2 separate regions of the Homo sapiens genome follow, and region 2 is linked to region 1. Evidence: fine-mapped expression QTL. A gene starts in region 1. The other region holds a variant in brackets. All regions are shown on one strand. Distances are between the middles of the regions.

What was found. PIP is the estimated chance that this variant, and not a neighbour inherited with it, causes the effect.
Region 2: its variant is the best candidate, but not a certain one, in a credible set for the expression of TTLL1 in whole blood (TOPMed, PIP 0.86).

The regions. Positions count from the first base shown.
Region 1 is chr22:43,087,927-43,090,938 of GRCh38, reverse strand. TTLL1 (TTL family tubulin polyglutamylase complex subunit L1) reads left to right here and starts at 1,548. Exons shown (of 11, transcript NM_012263.5): 1 at 1,548-1,662. RefSeq lists silencers at 574-633, 1,382-1,676, 1,441-1,780 and an enhancer at 1,382-1,676.
Region 2 is chr22:43,050,727-43,053,226 of GRCh38, reverse strand. TTLL1 (TTL family tubulin polyglutamylase complex subunit L1) reads left to right here. Exons shown (of 11, transcript NM_012263.5): 9 at 1,340-1,426. TTLL1-AS1 (TTLL1 antisense RNA 1) reads right to left here. Exons shown (of 3, transcript NR_125362.1): 3 at 861-1,172. Among named protein-coding and RNA genes, the nearest start is that of TTLL1-AS1, 13 kb to the right of the region's middle. The variant G/A (reference allele first, on the strand shown) is at 1,342.

The DNA of each region.
Region 1 (3,012 bases):
GTGCTGGGATTACAGGCGTAAGGCACCATGCCCTGCCTTAAAATTCTTTTTTTGTTGTTGTTTTTTTTAACTTTTTTTCTCTAAGAGACAGAGTCTTGTTCTGTTGGCCAGGCTGTAGTGTAGTGGCGGGATCATAGCTCACTGCAGCCTCAATCTCCTAGGCTCAAGTGATCCACCTCAGCCTCCTGAGTAACTGAGTAGGACTGCTGGCTACGCCCCCATACCCGGCTGATTAAAAATATTTTTTCTTTTTTTTTTAGAAATGGGGTCTTGCTATATTGGCCAGGCTGGTCTGGAACTCCTGACCTCAAGTGATCCTCCCATCTTGGCCTCCCAAAGTACAGGGATTGCAGGCATGAGGCAACATGCTGGAAGGCTACAATGTTTATTGAACACTTTACTATGCCAGGCCCTAACCACGTCTTGCAAGCCTTCACTCATCTCCTGGGTTTAAGGTGAGAACACTGTAGTCGGAAGCCTTGGGACTTCTCAAGGCCTCACAACCAGACAGCAGCTGAAGGGTATGAATTGGCAATTTGGACTCCAGATAAGTGTTGGTTCCACTAGATGGTGCCAAAAGTAAATGATGATGCGCTGAATGTGCTCTGGGCCTGGGAGGCGGTTGTGTGGGAGATTATAGGAAGTGATGTTAGCAAAGCTCCAATCATCACTAAGAAAGCACACCACCACCCCTCCTGAGAGGCAGCAGCATGAATGGTCAGGTGTCCTGGGTTCAAAGCCAGACTCTGTCACTTACAAGTTGCACAAGTTTGCATAACTCTTTAAATTGATGAAATTAAAAATGAATAATTGTATAGAGAATTCGAGGTAACACAGGTCTATAACGAGAATAATAAACGTCTTTTTTTTTTTTTTTTGAGGCGGAGTCTTGTTCTGTCGCCCAGGCTTGAGTGCAGTGGCACGATCTTGGCTCACTGCAACCTCTGTCTCCCGGGTTCAAGCGATTCTCTTGCCTCAGCCTAGCCAGGATGGTCTCGATCTCCTGACCTCGCGACCCACCCGCCTCTGCCTCCCAAAGTGCTGGGATTACAGGCGTGAGCCACCGAGTCTGGCCCAGATAAACACTTTTTAAAAAAAATTATTTTATTTTTATGTTATTATTATTATTATTATTTGAGATGGAGTCTCGCTCTATCGCCCAGGCTGGAGTGCAGTGGCGCAACATCACCATTTCTTCAGATAAGGAAGCCGAGGTAGAAGGGGTAGGAGAGGCTAAACAGCGGATTGAGACCGAACCCAGGATTCGGACCTAATCATCACACCGCTCTACCTTTCTTTTTAGACTTAATCCCGTGCTCCAGACCCTTCTCAATCTCCTTTCTGGGCCCCGAGAGGGTGGACGGCCTGGCATTTCCTAGGATCCAAGCCCTGGGCATAGCGGCCGCCCGAGGTATGGAGCCCAAAGGAGCCCCAGGCAAGTCTGACTCCGGAAATAGTCGCAGCGCCGGCGGTCGCGTCCTGGGTTGCCAGGGCGCCGCCCTGGAAGTAGAGTGCAGCGCGGGGCGGGGCGGGCCGGTGCGCCTGGCAGTCGGCTGCGTACTCCTGCGAGCGCCGGAGAGGGGCTGGAGGCGGGGCGAGGGCGCGGCTCGAGGCATCCCTGCAGGGCGCTCCTCCGAGTCCCTCGGCGCTCTGAGCCCACAGGTGAGGTCCTGTCCCCCAGGCCGCCGCCTCCCGGGCACCGAGGGTGTGGCTGCGCGCGGGCTGGCGAGTGCGCATGGGTGAGAGAGTGTGGGCGCCAGTGTCTACGCGGCTGCGAAAATGCGGTTCAGATGCTGCTTGCCGGATCCGCGTCCTCCAGGAAGCCCGCGCTAACCACCGTGCCTTTCTCCGTCCGCTGAGTTCCTATGACTTACCTCGTGCTGTCCGACTGTTGCAATTGCATCATTATGTTTATTATTTGTTATCCCAGACTTTCATTGTTCCTACACGTTTCCCATTCGTTTGCAATCTGTGTTGTTTCTGTTGGCATCTTTTGCAGGGCGCAATGTACCTGTGGAGAGAACTCAGGGCAGGAGACAAGAGCCTTGTGTCTTCCCTCTAGATGACTGGACCAAGACATTTCCCCTCTCTGATTCCCTATCAGCTAAGAGGGCAGGGCGGGGTAGTCATCCTTTTCCATAGAGTAGCTGGGGCATTAGAGGAGATTAATTCTGGAAGTGAAAGTATCTTATCATTGTTAGCCCTTTTGGCATTTGCAAAGCAGGTTCTTTGCTCAGGAAACGTTTGATGAGCACATTATGGTGCCGGGTTGTGGCGGTACAAAAAGATGGGCCCCGGCCGGGCACGGTGGCTCACGCCTGTAATCCCAGCACTTTGGGAGGCCGAGGCGGGAGGATCACGAGGTCAGGAGATCGAGACCATCCTGGCTAACACGGTGAAACCCCGTCTATACTAAAAATACAAAAAAAAAAAAATTAGCCGGGCATGGTGGCGGGGGCCTGTAGTCCCAGCTACTCGGGAGGCTGAGGCAGGAGAATGGCGTGAACCCGGGAGGCGGAGCTTGCAGTGAGCCGAGATTGCGCCACTGCACTCCAGCCTGGGCGACAGAGCGAGATTCTGTCTCAAAAAAAAAAAAAAAAAAAAAAAAAAAAAAGATGGGCCCTTCTCTGCCCTCAAATTACAGACACTGGTAAGCAGTCACTGTGGAGCATGGTACTGTCACCCAGTGCGGGCGTGGAGATGGACAGTGACAATACCGCTGTGAACGAATGCCCTGCTCAACATGAAGTCATCACTGACATTGTTATTACTTTATTTATTTATTTATTTATTTTTAGACGGAGTCTTGCTTTGTTGCCCAGGCTGGAGTGCGGTCGCTCTCGGCTCACTGCAACCTCTGCCTCCTGGGTTCAAGCGATTCTCCTGCCTCAGCCTCCCATGTAGCTGTGATTACAGGCACGCGCCACCATGCCCCGCTAATTTTTTAAATTTTAGTAGAGATGGGGTTTCGCCATGTTGGCCAGGCTGGTCTCGAGCTCCTGACCTCAGGTG
Region 2 (2,500 bases), 37 kb after region 1:
TCTATGCTTCACTGACTATAGGGTGCACAAGTCTCTGAGGAGCCTGTAAAACTGTGGTGCGTCTCCAGAGGTTGAATCCAGGCAGGCTGGGGAGGGCCCAGGAATCTGCATCATAAGCAGCTGGGTTTGGGGGGTTTTGTGTTTTTTGTTTGTTTGTTTGTTTTTTGAGACAGAGTTTCGCTCTTGTTGCCCAGGCTGGAGTGCAGTGGCGCAGTCTCGGCTTACTGCAACCTCCGCCTCCCAGGTTCAAGGGATTCTCCTGTCTCAGCCTCCCAAGTAGCTGGGATTACAGGCACGCGCCACCACGGCTCGCTAATTTTTTGTATTTTTAGTAGAGACGGGGTTTCACCATGTTGGCCAGGCTGGTCTCGAACTCCCGACGTCAGGTGATCCACCTGCCTCCGCCTCCCAAAGTGCTGGGATTACAGACATCAGCCACTGCGCCCAGCCAGTTTTCTTTTTTTTGTTTGTTTGCTTTTAAGTGACAGGTTCTTGCTCTGTCACCCAGGCTGGAGTGCAGTGGCACGATCATGGCTCACTGCACTCCAGCACTCCTCACGGCACTCCTCTTCCTCCCAGCCTCCAGCTGTCCCGAGTAGCTGGGACTAATGGCACATACCACCACACCCAGCTAAATTTTTTATTTTTTGTAGAGGCGGGGGTCTCGCTGTGTTGCTCAGGCTGGTCTCAAACTCCTGGGCTCAAGTGATCCTCCCACCTTGGCCTCCCAAAGTGCTGGGATTACAGGCATGAGCCACTGCACCCAGCCTCAGGTGGTGTTATTTATGTATCTGGAGAACAGTTAATCTAAGGTGTATCTAAGTGAAATGGAATTGAAAATTACAAAGGAAATTCAAAAATTTGTATGTAAATGGATTTACTTTTGTCACTGGGAACAGAGGTTAATAGTCTGGCACCCGGATCCCTAAGGGCCTGGGAAGGGGTAACGGGCAGCCTGGTGGACAGTTTGTGTTTGTCTGTGATAAGGCTGCACAGACCTTCACTGCAGGTTCTGGGCTTGGAGCTGGACATCCGTTCACTCTGATGACAGTCTCACGCCAACAGAGGGGTTGGGTGCTAGTCAAGCCTCTGATGAGTGAGACGCAGAGATGCCCATTACGGCTTCATCAATTCCCTCTATCAGGCTGAGGAAAGTGCCCAATCTCTGAGCTCTGCGGGAGGAAGAGGGAGAGGAGGGAAGGAAGCGTTTGTGGTGGAGGGTGGGAACCTGTGCTGTGGGAGGTCGGGACGTGGGACGATCCTGCTTGTCTCTGTGGCGTTGGTCTCGGCTGCGCCCTTCGATGCTGGCCATGTCACCCACTGGTCACTCTCTCTCCAGCC[G/A]GTGATGAACAATGACAAGCACTGCTTTGAATGCTATGGCTACGACATCATCATCGACGACAAGCTGAAGCCCTGGCTGATCGAGGTAACTGCGGGAGCACCTGCACCTGGTCACACCACACATAGCCCCCAACACACTTCTGCCCCGATTCGGGCCCAGCAGTCCCCCAGGCCCCAGATGTTTCTCAGGCCAGGCAGGAAGGGGACTGATGTTCGAGTTTGATTGTTTGCTGATGGTTAAGGTATAAGCACATTCCTGCCTTGCTCCCCTCCCAGAGCCCAGCCCACGACAGGGAGCTGTAGCCCATCTCACGTGAACTTGGTGGCTATGACTCCTCCAGGGTGCATCTGGGCTAGTTCATCCTCCCTCAGTCCTGCACCCTGTCCCCCAGGCCCTCCCCTGTCCTCATGGGTGACAGTGTTCCCATCTAGGAAAGCAGCTCACAACCTCGGTACCCTTGGCCAGCAGGAGCACACTCTCCTGAGGGAAGGAACGCCCCTGCTCTTCTTTGGCATATATGAAGGTAGAGTTTGGAAGTGGATTCCTCTGCCTCTTTCAGTGGGTGGAGAGGATGTCGTGTTGGCTATCTGTTTAGCACTGCCTCCTGACACCAAGCCTGGCTGGTGCGACCTCAGCCACAGTGGGCGCTGGCGCGCTTCTCAGAGGCCCCAGCTTCAAACCCACCTTGCCCAACCGTTGCTCTGGAGCCAGGAGGAGGAGCTTCAGGCCTCCAAGGGGACAAAAGAACTCCGGCTCTATTGGTTCATCTCCCTGCACGCCCTCCCAACCAAGTTCATTTGCCAGTGGATGGCTTGGGCCCTTCATCTCGGTCACATTTTGAGCCAGGACACCCAAGTCCACAATAGCAGGTTGTAGGGACTGGTTCCCTATGGGTAGAGTCATGGGAACCCCTGCAGGAAGCTGCTGAAGAGCCAAGTGAGCTGGTTCCATCGTGGCATTTTCCAGGCAACTCCTTATGCCGCCAAAGCTGGGTGTGTGAGCGGGGAATAGATAGCCAGTGTTTGTACTTTCTTGTCCTCCATGTTAAACAGAATAACTTGAGGCTGGGCATGGTGGCTCACTCCTGTAATCCCAGCACTTTGGAAAGCCAAGGCGGGTGGATCACCTGAGGTCAGGAATTCAAGACCAGCCTGGCCA